Regions from separate parts of the Homo sapiens genome. Here region 2 is linked to region 1. A link means that fine-mapping ties the variant in region 1 to the expression of a gene that starts in the linked region. Tissue or cell type: prefrontal cortex. Region 1 holds a variant in brackets; the other region holds the start of a gene. All regions are shown on one strand. Distances are from middle to middle.

The links. PIP is the estimated chance that this variant, and not a neighbour inherited with it, causes the effect.
Region 2: it holds the start of LINC00997, and the variant in region 1 is fine-mapped to the expression of LINC00997 in prefrontal cortex (GTEx, PIP 0.90).

What each region holds. Positions count from the first base shown.
Region 1 is chr7:32,507,512-32,515,775 of GRCh38, reverse strand. The region is part of intron 1 of AVL9 (AVL9 cell migration associated); the gene reads right to left. Among named protein-coding and RNA genes, the nearest start is that of AVL9, 16 kb to the right of the region's middle. RefSeq lists enhancers at 879-1,503, 2,058-2,632. The variant A/C (reference allele first, on the strand shown) is at 4,540.
Region 2 is chr7:32,754,052-32,762,051 of GRCh38, reverse strand. LINC00997 (long intergenic non-protein coding RNA 997) reads right to left here and starts at 3,766. Exons shown (of 1, transcript NR_036501.1): 1 at 1-3,766.

The DNA of each region.
Region 1 (8,264 bases):
AAAGACCAGAACAAACAACAACAAAAACCCAACAATATGATTACTGAGCGCTATAACAGTAAGGAGAAACTACGACCAGCTGCATCATAACTTTAACCAAGATGAAACCCCAATTCAGTCACTTACCTAGGAATGGGTCTCAGGCTGAAGACTGCTCTCTACCATTCTAGAAGCAGGAAAACTCAAATTCGCCTTCTCTGTTGGAAGTGAGCTCTAACTCCAGAAAGGAGTTACCTGCCTTCTATTGTCATGGAAGCAGGAAAACTTGCTTTCCTTGTTGGAAGCAAGTAAAACTCTAGAAAAGGAGTTGTACAGCAAAATACACTTTGGATCTCAACCAAATTTGGGGAGATCAGGATTCTCTGGAGGGAGGAGGGCTCCCAGCTCTCAGCCAATTGTCCTGTTGGTTTCGACCATAAAGACAGCTAAAAGCTGGTACTAAATATCAATAGATTTGTCAGAGGTTGAGGCCACCTATACTCAGAGTCTCTTTCATCGGTTGCCAATTTGTAAACCAAAAAGTATTTGAGACAAGTCTGAATCAATTTAGAAAGTTTATTTTGCCGAGGTTAAAGACGTACCTGTGACACATCCTTAGAAGGTCCTGAGGACACATGCCCAAGGTGGTTAGGCTCCAGCTTGCTTTTATACATTTTATGGAGACATAATACATTATGGGGAAAACAAAGAGAGATCAGATTGTTACTGTGTCTATGGAGAAAAAGGAAGATATAAGAAACTCCATTTTGATCTGCACTAAGAAAAATTGTTCTGCTTTGAGATGCTGTTAATCTGTAACTCTTGTCCCAACCCTGTGCTCACAAAAACATGTGCTGTATTTTTCATGCGTGTCCGTGTGAAGAGACCACCAAACAGGCTTTGTGTGAGCAATAAAGCTTTTAATCACCTGGGTGCAGGCGGGCTGAGTCCGAAAAGAGAGTCAGTGAAGGGAGATAGGGGTGGGGCTGTTTTATAAGATTTGGGTAGGTAAAGGAAAATTACGGTCAAAGGGTGTTTGTTCTCTGGCGGGTAGGAGTGGGGGTCACGAGGTGCTCAGTAAGGAAGGTTTCTGAGCCAGGATGAGCCAGGAAAAGGACTTTCACAAGGTAATGTCATCACTTAAGGCAAGGACCGGCCATTTTCACTTCTTTTGTGGGGGAATGTCATCGGTTAAGGCAAGGACCGGCCATTTACACTTCTTTTGTGGTAGAATGTCATCAGTTAAGGCGGGGCAGGGCATTTTCACTTCTTTTGTGATTCTTCAGTTACTTTAGGCCATCTGGGCATATACGTGCAAGTCACAGGGGATGCGATGGCTTGGCTTGGGCTCAGAGGCCTGACAGTATTGACTGAGGTTTAAGGAATTCAGGGCTGTGCAGGATGTGCTTTGTTAAAAATGTGTTTGCAGGCAGTATGCTTTGTGAAAGTCATCGCCATTCTCCATTCTCTATTAACCAGAGACACAATGCACTGTGGAAGGCCGCAGGGACCCCTGCCCAAGAAAGCCTGGGTATTGTCCAGGTTTCTCCCCACTGAGACAGCCTAAGATATGGCCTCGTGGGAAGGGAAAGACCTTACAGCCCCTCAGCCCGACACCTGTAAAGGGTCAGTGCTGAGGAGGATTAGTGAAAGAGGAAGACTTCCATGCAGTTGAGATAAGAGGAAGGCATTTGTTTCCTGCATGTCTCTGGGAATGGAATGACTTGGTGTAAAACCGAGCGTACATTCTATTCTGAGATAGGAGAAAACCGCCTTATGGCTGGAGGTGAGACATCATGGTGGCAATACTGCTCTGTTACTTTTTACTGCACTGAAATGTTTATGTAAAGTTAAACATAAAACTAGCCTATGTGCACATCCAGGCACAACACCTTTCCTTATTTATGACACAGATTCCTTTGCTCAAATGTTTTTCTGCTGACCCTCTCCCCACCATCACCCTATAGTTACACCACATTCCCCTCACCAAGATAGTAAAGATAGTGATCAATAAATACTGAGGGAACTCAGAGACCAGCGCTGGTGCAGGTCCTAACTTGCTGAGCGCTGGTCCCCTGGGCCCACTTTTCGTCCTCTATACTTTGTCTCCGTGTCTTATTTCTTTTCTCAGTCTCTCGTCTCCACCTTGCGAGAAATACCCACAGGTGTGGAGGGGCAGGCCCCCTTCAATACATCCACCAATACATTAAGATTTACATTGGTTTGATCTGGAAGGGTGGGACAACTCAAAGAAGGAGGCTTCCAAGTCATAGGTACACTTAAACATATTCTGATTGGCAATTGGTTGAAAGAGTTTTTATCTATAGAAAAGAATGTCTGGGTGAAGACAAGGGGTTGCGGAGGTTTTATCATGCAGATGAAGCCTCCAAGTATCAGGCTTTAGAGAGAATAGACTGTAAATGTTTCTTAAGGTCTGTGATGATAGTAATGCTGGAAGGGTATAATGAAGCAAGTTCAACCCCCACCTGGCTTCAAGGCCTAAACCAGTCTTTTTTGGTTAAATTTTAGGGTGCCCTGGCTGAGGAGGGAATCCATTGGGATGGTTGCAGGGGTGCCTTTGAATTTTATTTTTGGTTTACAAAGCCAATACTATGACACCAGGTTTTTGAGAAAAGAAAAGCTTTTCATTGCAGGTTACTCAACAAGGAGACAGGAGTCCAGCTCAAATCTGTCTCCCTGTGCTGGCTTTAAGGCAGTACTTTTATTAGAAAAGGTTAAGGGGCTGATTCTGGGATTAGCAAGTAGTTGGTAGAAGGAAAGGGAACATCTGCGAAGTCCCTCAGGCGTGCACAGTTATCTCTCCATGCCTCCTCATGGATCCCATACACAAATTCAGGGGAAGTTAGTATGAAACAAGAGGAGTCAGTATGAAACATGTGGTAGAAATTTGGGTTGTGATATCAGCGAGTTCATTCTACATATATTCATTGGCCATATTAGTTTTAACCAATTTTAGCCAATTTCATTCTCTTAGAAGGGGAGGGAGTTTTATTTTAGCAAGTTGTTTCTTATCTGCCATCCTGCAAGCTCGAAGATTTCTGTTACTGCTTTCTTCAGCTCTTTGGGGCACAGTTTCAATGGGCAGAGAGTGTACCAGCTTTGGCCTTTTGTTTCTGGTTCCAGTGAACAGAAAGGCATCAAACCAAGGGACCACAGGAACTACGAGGTAAGCTACGAAAAGTACAGTTCTGCTCTTAAGCTCCTCCTACAAGATCCTGTCCAGAGACACAGGAGGAGGCAAAGATGCTGGTAAGCACTTTGTGCCATTCTGTGCTCCCTCCCACCAGCCCTCTTTCTGGCCAAGTTCTAGTCCCACCTGCTTTGTGCCTACTGGTAGTTCGTTTTCTGGTCTTTAGTGTCCTCATCGATAAAATAACGTAACATCTCTAATCATGTGCATTCACACAGTGAGGTAAATGATGTGAAAGGGCTTTGAACAATGTAGTAAGGAAAAGAGACTAGGATACTGACTTCCCATTTTCCCAATTCCTGCTTCAGAACTGCTCTCCTAGGCCCCAAGCCCCTGCCTCTGTTAGCCCCTTGATCAATCTTTGCCTATGGAGGGGCAAAACTACATGGTATCCCAAGAACAAGGACCAATAATTACAGATCCATTTATTTTCTTTGCTACTTCCCATGACCACTCTTAAACTGAGAAACTGGGACCATTTCCCTGATTGATGGGGCCTCCTCACTAGAATAAAAGGGAGCATGTATGTTTCATAATGGGCATTCCATCAAGAAATGTCCTAAGGAGATAAATGTATGTTTCATAATAGGCATTCTGTGATGGAATGTCCTGAGGAGATAAATGCTGGAGTCGGTCTCAGCACATCTCAGTTATTCATTCTGACTCGTTTGGACAAGTGAGTTACTACAGCACTCATTTGGAAAAATGACCAGAAAGCTACCTCCAATTTCTCGGCCTCAACCCTGGCCTCCATTTCTTTCTGTTCCTTCTGGCTCTCGTCTTCCAGCCCTTCTTCCTCCCCTTACTCCTCAAACTTCCTGCCCTCAGCCTCCTCTCCAGGACCGTCCAAGCTGTTCAGTTTTCCAGCGTACCTGTTTCCCCCAGCTGACTAATGTCGCCCCTTCCCAGCACCCTACCTCCCGGAACTCCCTGCCCAGCTCTTCCTCTGTTAATTCCAGAGCGTCCGTATGCCACCGCCCTGCTCGTCAGGCACCCCTTTCCAAGTGTCCTCCTATCTTTCCCCCTCGCCCTCCTCATAGACCCTCTTGCTAGTCCCCTGTACTCTAATCCCCACAACCTAGTACACCCCTGCATCTTATCCTAGAGAGATGGCTTCCCTCCTACTGGGGCAGTTCAGAATTTCCAGGACTGTGGACTCCCACAACCAGACCTGATGGCTCACAAATCTCACCCTGGAGAGATTGCTTTCCTCATACTGGGGCAGTTCAGAAGTGCCAGGACTGTGGATTCCCACAAGCAGACCTGACGGCTCACAAATCTTACCCTGGGGAGATGGTTTCCCTCATACTGGGGCAGTTCAGAATTGCCAGGACTGTGGATTCTCCCAA[A/C]GAGACTTGATGGCTCATGAATCTCACCCTGGAGAGATGGCTTCCCTCATACTGGGGCAGTTCAGAAGTGCCAGGACTGTGGACTCCTACAACCAGACCTGACGGCTCACAAATCTTACCCTGGGGAGATGGTTTCCCTCATACTGGGGCAGTTCAGAAGTGCCAGGACTGTGGACTCCCACAACCAGACCTGACGGCTCACAAATCTTACCCTGGGGAGATGGTTTCCCTCATACCGGGGCAGTTCAGAAGTGCCAGGATTGTGGACTCCCACAACCAGACCTGACGGCTCACAAATCTTACCCTGGAGAGATGGCTTCCCTCATACTGGGGCAGTTCAGAAGTGCCAGGACTGTGGATTCTCCCAACGAGACCTGATGGCTCATGAATCTCACCCTGGAGAGACGGCTTCCCTCATACTGGGGCAGTTCAGAAGTGCCAGGACTGTGGACTCCTACACCCAGACCTGACGGCTCACAAATCTTACCCTGGGGAGATGGTTTCCCTCATACTGGGGCAGTTCAGAAGTGCCAGGACTGTAGACTCCCACAACCAGACCTGACGGCTCACAAATCTTACCCTGGGGAGATGGTTTCCCTCATAATGGGGCAGTTCAGAAGTGCCAGGACTGTGGACTCCTACAACCAGACCTGACGGCTCACAAATCTTACCCTGGAGAGATGGCTTCCCTCATACTGGGGCAGTTCAGAAGTGCCAGGACTGTGGATTCTCCCAACGAGACCTGATGGCTCATGAATCTCACCCTGGAGAGATGGCTTCCCTCATACTGGGGCAGTTCAGAAGTGCCAGGACTGTGGACTCCCACAGCCAGACATGACGGCTCACAAATCTTACCCTGGGGAGATGGTTTCCCTCATACTGGGGCAGTTCAGAATTGCCAGGACTGTGCATTCTCTCAGCCAGACCTGACAGCTCACAAATCTCACCTTGGAGAGATGGCTTTCCTCCTACTGGGGCAGTTCAGAAGTGTCAGGACTGTGGACTCCCACAGCCAGACCTGACGGCTCACGTATCTCACCCTGGAGAGATGGGCTCGCTCCTACTGGGGCAGTTCAGAAGTGCCAGGACTGTGGACTCCCACCACCAGACCTGATGGCTCACCTATCTCACCCTAGAGAGATGGCTTCCCTCCTCCTGGGGCAGTTCAGAATTGCCAGGACTGTGGATTCCCAGAAGGCTGATTTAATGGACGTAGAAAATGTAAGATGGTAAACCAACATTCAGCCTCAGTAAGTTACAAGGACCCCTTTTCCATGATCAGATTCCTTGTTATCTTATTACTAACTGTATTTTGCCTTAATCCTCATTTTGTTAACCCTCTTCAGATTCTAGAGATTACCTTTTTCTAGACAGTCTTTTTTTCTTTTTGAGACAGTCTCACTCTGTTGCCCAGGCTGGAGTACAGTGGTGTGATCTTGGTTCACTGCAACCTCCACCTCTCAGTTCAAGTGATTCTCCCACTTCAGCCTCCCGAGTAGCTGGGATTACAGGCGCCCGCCACCACGCCTGGCTAATTTTTTGTATTTTTAGTAGAGATGGGGTTTCATTATGTTGGCCAAGCTGGTCTCAAACTCCTGACCTCAAGTGATCCGCCCGCCCGGCCAAGACAGTCTGTTCCTTTCCTCTCCTGTCTAGTCAGCTAGGATATACAAGCCTCTACCTTTGGAACTGGTTTCTCAATGGAACTTGGTCTGAAACCACAAAGCAAACTATAGGACTGATGACAGAGAAAGAGGAGAGTGAGGAGTAAAAAGCGTTAATCTGTTTTCAAGTAGGGTAAGTTGTGTTGATGTGCCCTAGGTTCAAGTCAATGCAAGAACAGGTGACCCCTGAGAACTCACACACAGGGTACAAGGCCCCTGCTATATAGATACAGGGTACAGAGTTTTGTTTTTTATTGTGTTTTTTTGGGTCTGGTTCCTCCCAGACTTCATTTTTCTTCATCCTAGAATTCCAGAATCTTGCCAGGGACTTTCTGCCCTTAAGGAAAGTCTCCTGCAAAAAGAGGGAGGGGGCCCTCCAGGGCTCTCATCAAAGCTGAGGGTTGAGCCTCCCTCTCAGTTAGCTGCTTCCACGCCAGAAAGGGAAAGGTAGCAGAGTCTGGAAGGCACAGCATGTCCAGATCCTACCCAGATGAGAGCATCTGATGAACAGATAATATAAAAAGAAGTGCTGTCCTCAAACTGATCCTTAGATTCAATACAATCTCAATCAAAACTCCAAAAGATATTTTTGCAGAACCTGGCAAGCTGATTATAATTTATATGGAAATGTAAAGGGTCAAGAGTAGCCAAGACTCTCCTAAGAAGAAATTCTTCTTTACCAGGTATCAAAACTTATTACAAAAATTATAATAAGATAGTGTAATACTGGTGCAAGCATAGAAAAATAGACAAATGTCACAGAATACAGGAACAAGACACACATATGTGGACACTTTAATACCAAAGTAGCATAACAGAACAGTGAAGATAGGACTGTCTTTATATTCAATAAAGTGGTCTTAAGGCAACTGGATGCCCAAATGAGTAAGTAATGATTTCTACCTCACAATTCATTCAAAAAATCATTTTCAGGTGGAACATAAGATATAATGTGAAAGGGTAAAAACAATAAATCTTCTAGAACTGCTCTGCCCATGTATGGATACTGAACATTCGAGATGTGCTATTAAGTAAAATTTGCATTTGATTTTAATTACTTAGTAGGAAAAAACAATGTGAAATATCTCAATTTTTATATTGAAACTTTGAAATACTAATTTGGAGTGAGTTAAAAAACACAATATTAAAATTAGTTTTATCTGATTATTTTGCTCTCTTAATGTGGATACTACAAATTTTAAATTATGTATGCAGCTCACTTAGTATTTTTATTAGACAACACTGATCTAGAAGGTAATACAGAAAAATATCTTCAGGACATCAAATTAGTAAAAATGTCTTAAATGGCATTTAAAAAGCACTAACCACAATGGGAAAGACTAATATAGTTGACCACATTTCAATTATGGTGTAAAAAAGACACCATTAAGATACTGAAAAGGCAAGCAACAGAGAGGGAAAAGAATTTGCAGCACATATAAGTCTTAAATGGCTTTTTTCAATAATATAAAAAGAACTTCAACAAATAAAGAAAAGACAATCCAATTGAAAAACAGGATAAGATTTGGAGCATGTGCGTCACAAAAAGAGGATAGCCCAATGACCAGCAGACCTATAAAAAAGTGTCCAGCCTCATAACAAATCAAAAAATGTGATGTAAAACAATAATGAGATGACACTACATACCCCACCAGAATTACTGTAATTAAAAGGATGGACAATGCCCAGTGTTGGCAAGGAGCATGAAGAACACCAGTGATAAAGTTAATTGGTTCCACTGTTTCGGAAAACAATTTGATATCTACTAAAAGCGAAGACAGGTATTCCCTATAATCCATCAATTCCACTCTTAAGTATATATCCAACAAAATGATTTGCACACGTGCACCAAGAGACATCTAAAAAATGCTCATGATGGCATTATTTGTAATGCCCATGATGAAACAACCGAATGCCTGTCAACAGTTGAATAAATAAATTGTGGTTTATCACCAAAGGGAACACTACACAGTTATGAGAAGAAATGAAACCACAGGAATATGCAACGGCATAGATGAATTCCACAAGCATAATGCTGAACAAAAGAAGCCGAACACAAAA
Region 2 (8,000 bases), 250 kb before region 1:
CACTGGAAGCTGCACGCTCAGGGAAGCTCGGAGGCGGGGGTCCTGCGAGTGCTGGGGAGCACGTGGGGGGACACGCAGGGACTGCCCGCGCAAATGGCTTCGAACGCATGCTCCCCACCCCACATTTCACAGTCGCCATGACGACCAGGAGGTCCGCAAGGGCTGCGGGGACAAGTCCGTTGAGGCTGCCAGGCAAGTCAGGCCTTTCTGGACCTCGCCTGACTGAGCTGGGCTGTGCCTGAAATTGACCCAGCTCCGCCAGGGATTATAAGAAAACAAGTAGTAAGCTCAAAGCCGCTACAATCTTCCCGCCCTGGAGCCAGAGGTGGAAAAGTCGGCCCTATGCGGCGGGAACCTGCCAAGGGGCGCCCCAAGGTGCTCCACGCGGAGGATCCGAAATCTGAAAGCACAAAAAGGCTTGGAGCTACAGTTGGGGGCCAAGACCCTTCTTCTCGGCCCCTTCCAGTTCGTCCATAATTTCCTGGCGCAGCTTCGGGAAAAGGTGCACGAACTGCAGGCGCGGCAGTTCTCCAGCAGGACCACTCTTGGCATCGGTGAGGAGAGGGCAGGAGAGCCCTGGGAGGGAGCCGCATGGCGCTTTTCTTAAGTCTTGAAGGAGATCAGTTTAACAAGCAACGGTTTGTGGGTGCCTAGTAGCAAATAATAGCAAGGTCCGAGTAGAAAGCAGTTGGCCAAAGATCTTGCCATTGAACCAGGGGAGAGAGATGGGGAGTATATTGGTTTGAAGGGCTGTCAGATCACAGAGAGTGTTTTAAGGTCTAGGAGTTTTAAAGGCTGAGGGGAGGGATCAAGGGAAGAGGATGAGATTAAGATTCCAAGAGAGGAAATAATTAGTGGAGCAAGTCTTGGAATATTTGGGAGGGGTAGAATTAAAGGCACAAATTTGAGAAGCTAACTGTGGAAAAGAGGAGAGAGAATTCCTTTTCTGAGATGACAGGGAGTAGAAAAGTGAGGATTACTATATGGAGAAATGTTAAAGTGGAGATAAAAGAAGTCGGGAGTGCTGGCGTCTAATGGTCTTTGTTTCAGTGAAGTATGAGACTGGGTCACCTTCAGAGGTGAGATTGACAGGATGCCGGGGTCCAAGGGACATGCTTCTGTCACAGCTTGGAAAGGGCATGTGATAAGCCCTTCAAGCATTTAGAATACTGGCATCGTTACACCATATCATTTTTTTTCAGATGTGGTATGTGGGTTAAGGGAGGGAGTGAGAGACACAGAAAGATTTTGAGCATCTTTGGAAAGCTGGATGAATTCGGTAGTATATTTGACCTTTTCCTTATATATCATCTGAAGAGTTTTTGCCAGTGTATATAATTGTTAGGAGAATTAGAAATAGGATACAAATATAGTTGAATAGGATAGTCTCTGTATATTTTAAAATTAATGAAGCCTAATAAACAGTTAATGAGCATATTTACAAAAATTTAAAGTTTTCAGCCTTTTAAAAATTATAGCAACTGTGCTTGCAGACAGTCCAAAAATACACTGTGGGCCATACTTTGCCTATCCTGGTGTAAAACAAGTAAATCTTCTGAGAAGTATTTAAGATAAGCCCAGGGCAGTTAGTAGTATAGGAAAAGGTCTGGATAAGCATGGTTGAGAATTTCAACATTGCAATTTTTTAATTTTAAAAAATTTAATTTCTTCAACAATTATTAAATTAATTTGCATTTATTTTGTTAGCCAAGAGGAGTAATTTTTGAATTTTTAAGAGGCTATTATTGGTGGTTTATAAGACGACTTGCCAAGTATATTTGGGATAACCATAAGAAATACCATTATAAAATCTCAGAAGGGAGGTAGGACTTCTGGAATAGCCAAGGAAATGCACTCCTCCATGATGACAATGAAAATACTTGGAAAATTATCAAAATCATTTTCTTCAAAACTTTGGAAGTTAACCAAAGGTTTACAACAATCTAAAGGGCATTAATTCAAGAAAAGCTGCTGAACCTCTATAAGAACAGCAAAGTCTGTGGTGTTTTAACTTGTTCTATTCCCCACTTTTCTCTCTCCAGCTCCATGGTACCCTTGAAAACAAGCAATTCCCCAACGAAACAGGGGCACAGGCTGCGTTTGCAGCTCTGGTAAAAGCTCCATACCCAGAGCAGTGTCTCCCAGCTCCCTGGTGAAGTCTTACGTATACATGGGGTGCTGGCACAGGTGCCTCCAGATAAGTCTCCTAGGCCATCTAGTAGTTCCTAAGTCTGGGCGCTTGCAAAGAGCTTGCAATTCATCAAGGGTTGAGTTGCACAATGGGGCTTTTAGATGTGCTGCTGAGGAAGTGATTGCCTGCATTTAATCGTCTTCTGATGAATGCTAGAGAAACTGATCTAGAGTGGCACCTCTTGGTTAGAACGAGCTGAAGCATACTGTATATATTTACTTCTTTAAAAAATTTCATATAAAGGAATAGAATACTAAAAAGAAAAAAAAACAAAAAAGGTCACAATATTCCATAATTCCATCACTCCTACCAATTAACTGAAGTAAAAAAACCCTCTCAAGTCTCTCCCTTTGCTTGTCAAGCCCTGCTGCAGAGAGGTAAGCTCTGTTCAGAATTTACTTTGTGTCCTGGATTTTTTCCTATGCTCATAGAGACAGGATTAGCTGGCCATCTTGCTTTCTGTGCTATCTTTTCTAGACATGTAAAATAATACATTTGAAATACTTGTTTTAATGGTATTTTATAATAAAGCAGCTTTTAATAACTTTTCTCTTTTCCAGCCGTCTTTGTGGCAATTTTACATTGGTAAGATTTAGTTTCAGTTCGAAATATTTAAAAACATTTGAATTAAAAATTGCCATCACTCTTTGCATACAGTAAAACAATAACTTCTGGCTATATTTGTAGAACATCTTTATGTACGCCATTTTATACATATATTTTGCTTTTTTACAAACCTCATATGTGAAACAGCATTTACAAAATAGATGCATTGGGGGAATAGTAACTTATGAATTAAAATATTTTGGCTTTACCAAATAATTCACCACGTTTTTAAAAATATCTAGCTTTTCTAGTGTATTTTGCATGTGTAGTTCATTTAAAACCCTCCTTTGTTTTATGGTAATTATATGTTGCTAGTGAAATAACTTTTTTTTTTTTTTTTGAGACAGTCTTGCTCTGTCTCCCAGGCTGGAGTGCAGTGGCGCGATCTTGACTCATTGCAACCTATGCCTCCCAGGCTCAAGTGATTCTCGTGCCTCAGCCTTCTGAGTAGCTGGGATTACAGGTATGCGCCACCACACCCAGCCAATTTGTTGTATTTTTAGTGGAGATGAGGTTTCACCGTGTTGGCCAGGTTGGTGTCAAACTCCTGGCCTCAAATGATCCACCTGCCTTGGCCTCCCAAAGTGTTGGGATTACAGGCATGAGCCACCACGCTCAGCTAGTGAAATAACTTTGGTGATAAAGTTTTAGTAACACCCGCCAATTGGAAGTCAGGTAAAAAAGAAGATAAAGATTCTGCAGTGGTTATACAGAGTTAAATGGCTTTGACTCTTTCAGTGTGCAAGGCTGTGTACATTATTTTACAAAAGTGTTTATAAAAATTTGTAAAATAATATTTCCCTCTGGAATATTTTATTTTTACCTGTGCTCAGCGATTTCTACCCTTGGAAGGTATGAGATCTGCCCCTATGTTCTATTGATACAGTGCTGCTCTAGACATTTAGTCTGCAGGGAGATTTTGGTATTAGAACTGAGGCTGCAATGCTAGGGAATATTCCTGCAGTTTTTGGTACCCTGGCATATGTCCTACATGTAAAGAAGGGTTAGTGGAAAACAGGGTTAATACATGGAACTTTGCTTTATTTTCAACTTCACTGGAAAGTACTGACTACATAAGTTAGCTATAGCATAATTGTTGACCACAGCTAATTTTGTTTATCACATATGCTCCTTTCTTCACTGCCTACAGCTGCTGAGTTTCACTACTAAAAGGTCTTCAAGTACACACCTGTATTCTTTGGCGCTTGAAAGTTGATCCTTTATGTGATATTATACTTATTGTAAGTCTGTTTTGATCTAAAGTAATTTTATTTAAAATTATATTCTGAACCCTTTTCAACAGTTACGGAGGTATTTCCCAAGGCTGGTACATTAGAATCACTTGAAACTTAAAAAACAAACACTAACCTGCCTCTGTTCTGATTTAGAGGCCTGGGATGGAAGGAAGGGTGAAACAAGCCACAAGAATTTTAGATATACAATTAAGTTGGTTTTTTTTTTTTGAGACAGAGTCTTACTCTGTCGCCCAGGCTGGAGTGCAGTGGCATGATCTCTGCTCACTGCAACCTCCGCCTGCTGGGTTCAAGCAATTCTTCTGCCTCAGCCTCCCTAGCAGCCAGGATTACAGACATGCACTACCATGGCTGGCTAATTTTTGTATTTTTAGTAGAGACAGGGTTTCACCATGTTGGCCAGGCTGGTCTCAAACTCCTGACCTCAAGTGATCTGCCCGCCTCGGGCTCCCAAAGTGCTGGGATTACAGGCATGAGCCAACGCACCCGGCAACAATTAAGTTTAAAAACCACTGAGTTAAGGAATTTCAGGTGTGTGCCATACTGCATTATAAATGCCTAAAAACATACGAGTTAGTAAGCAAATTATAAAAACAATATTATAACAATTTATTGTTTCCTTTTTTATGGCTTTCTTACTTATCGCTTATTTTAATGTTGGTTTTGAAACTTGTTCTTATTGTAATATGATACTTCATTGCACTGTTTCATAAGCTATAACCCAGGTTTATTATTTAAATAGTAAAGTGTTTGAGATTATTTTTCTGTTACTTCATTATCTCTCACCCTTTCCTAATGCAGACTTCTTTTTAAGATAATGAAGATGAATTATAGTAGCTGAGGAAGGAGGACAAAGAAAGCACTGAAGAAGTGATAAAGGGGAATGAAATGAGATGTTATCAGAAATTGCTTTTTCTTTGGCTACAGTTGGGAGGTCCCATGTTTTACTGGGTCTTTTACTGATGATGATTATTATTTGGTTCTCTTTTGATTTCAAGATAATCTCTTTTAAGAGATGACTTTTGATATAATTTTTAAATATTTTTCTGTTTTTCGATACTTAATCTTTAAAATGGAGTTTTCTGCCATACACATCTCACATAATTATTGTGAGGAGTAAATGGGATAGCGAATACCAAAATTGTGCAATTTTACATTTAGAAGACACCACAACCGTCCATCTTCCAGATCTGCTCCCAGCTGGTCGGGGGCCTACTGAAGCATTGAAGCTGACTCTCCTCACTCTAGCCATTGCTTTTTGTTTAAATTATGGTGAAATTTAGATTTAAGTTTGTAATAGAAAAATGTCAATGGTTATCATTTAAGCGTACAATTCAGTGACATTAAGTACATTCGTGTTGTCTTGCAACTATTACCACTGTCCACATCCAGAACTTTTTGCTATCCCAAACAGAAACTCCACCCACTAAACACTAATCACACTCAGCTCTATTTTCTATCTCTATGATTTTGCCTATGCCAGGCCCCTCCGTCACTGCTTTTTAATTTTCATCCCTATATTGCCCCTATAAAGTTTCAAAGCATTGGATACATTAACATATGTATGACATTTGAACATTTTAAAGAGAATATTTAATATTTCCCTAAATATAGACTTTTGCATATTAGATATCCTTTAATTATTGTATTGCTTTATCCTCCTAAGCAGAAAGGAAAATTCTTTATGAACTCATATTTTGCCAATCAACTATGAGGTAATGGCCTTTCAGACATCAGCTAAAACAGACGTTTAATTTAGTAGTTACTCGTGTTGGATGAGGCAGATATGATTATAGCATATAGCATTTTTTAGGGAGAATGCATTTTAAACAATGTGGCCCTTTTTTGCTTTTAGATTTTAGGAGCGAAAGCAAGAAATTGATGGGGAAATAAGACATAACATGCTATTGTTAATCCATGAATTTTAACTCAACAGCACTTTTACTATCCTAATGAAGCCTTTATTTTATATGCTGAAGTGTAAGACACTAAAATAATCTGCTTTTTAGTACATAGTATTTGTGAGCAACAATAGTCAATCAACATTGAGCTTTCACTTAGCACAGAGGATTAGATGGAGCTATGAATTAAGCTAGAAGCACTGGATTCCTTGCTCATGATGCTTATGGTCATTATATTTTATTTCCTAAGAGCATGGGAAAAAAAGAAGTAATTTTCTATATGCAAAGTTGTACAGAGGCATGAAGGCATCCCTGTTTATGACAGAATTAATCAGATGTCAACCTTCAAGCATCTCAAATGTGGGGGATAAAACCAGATTTGGGAAAATTGAACATATACTGTCTACACATTTTAAGACATTATTAGAGAAACTCTTTAAATCATTCGACCATCCCTCCAACTCTTTAGTTTGAAAGCCTATAGAAAACTTGAAAGAATAGTACAGTGATCACCTGAAAATACGTGCTTTTTAAAGTCCAAGAATGCAAAATAGCGAGGCGTAATTAGGAAGTCTTATTATTGACCTTTTTTTTCAGAAAAAAATGTTCTAAAGAAGTGATAAAAATAAATATTTTAAAGTTTTAATTACATTGACAACATGTGCCTTCTTTTTTTTTTTTTTTTTTTAAAGGGACTTTTATTCCTACTTCGAGACCAATATTGAAGCACCTTCATTTTTGGAAGGACTGGGGACGATAATGAATGACAGGCTTACTGAAATCCTCTTGGAATTAATGCAGTAAAATGCTTCCATCTTTATCCAGAGGTGAGTCATAATTTGAGACAAATAATATATTTATAGAGTGATCCTCTTTATCAGATAAAAATAGTAAGCACAATCTTTTTAAGAAAGGGAGGGGACCTTTCACGTTTATTAGTTGTGTGTATCCTTATAGTTGAGCAGAATATCATAAGTTCCTCTCTTAAAATTTAAAGACCCCAGAAACTGTTCTCTCATGAACTCAAAGAATGAACTTTAGTGTGTAAATAATAGCCAGGGTAATAGACAAGCCAAATGGAAAAGAGAGTCATGGGAGCCAAAAAGGTTCTAAATGGGGATGGGCTTTTGGCTTTGGATACCTCGTAGGTGGGCACGATGACCACGTGAAGGGACAGTGAGAGTGATGAGCTTGAATAGTTATCTTGGACTTACGTTAGTAAAGTAAGATTTATTTAGTCACACAGCCGGAAATCTATTACTATCTTCCAACACTTAGCCTAAAAGACTATGGTTGTTTTTTTTTTTTTTTTTTTTTAGTATTTATTGATCATTCTTGGGTGTTTTTTGGAGAGGGGGATTTGGCAGGGTCATAGGACAATAGTGGAGGGAAGGTCAGCAGATAAACATGTGAACAAGGGTCTCTGGTTTTCCTAGGCAGAGGACCCTGCAGCCTTCCGCAGTGTTTGTGTCCCTGGGTACTTGAGATTAGGGAGTGGTGATGACTCTTAACGAGCATGCTGCCTTCAAGCATCTGTTTAACAAAGCACATCTTGCACCGCCCTTAATCCATTTAACCCTGAGTGGACACAGCACATGTTTCAGAGAGCACGGGGTTGGGGGTAAGGTTATAGATTAACAGCATCCCAAGGCAGAAGAATTTTTCTTAGTACAGAACAAAATGGAGTCTCCTATATCTACTTCTTTCTACACAGACGCCGCAACAATCTGATTTCTCTTTCTTTTCCCCACATTTCCCCCCTTTCTATTCGACAAAACCGCCATCGTCATCATGGCCCGTTCTCAATGAGCTGTTGGGCACACCTCCCAGACGGGGTGGCTGCCGGGCAGAGGGGCTCCTCACTTCCCAGATGGGGCAGCCGGGCAGAGGCGCCCCCCACCTCCCGGACGGGATGGCTGCCGGGCAGGGGCTGCCCCCCACCTCCCGAATGGGGCGGCTGGCCAGGCAGGGGCTGGCCCCACCTCCCTCCCGTGCGGGGTGGCTGGCCGGGTGGGGGCTGCCCCCCACCTCCCGGACGGGGCGGCTGCC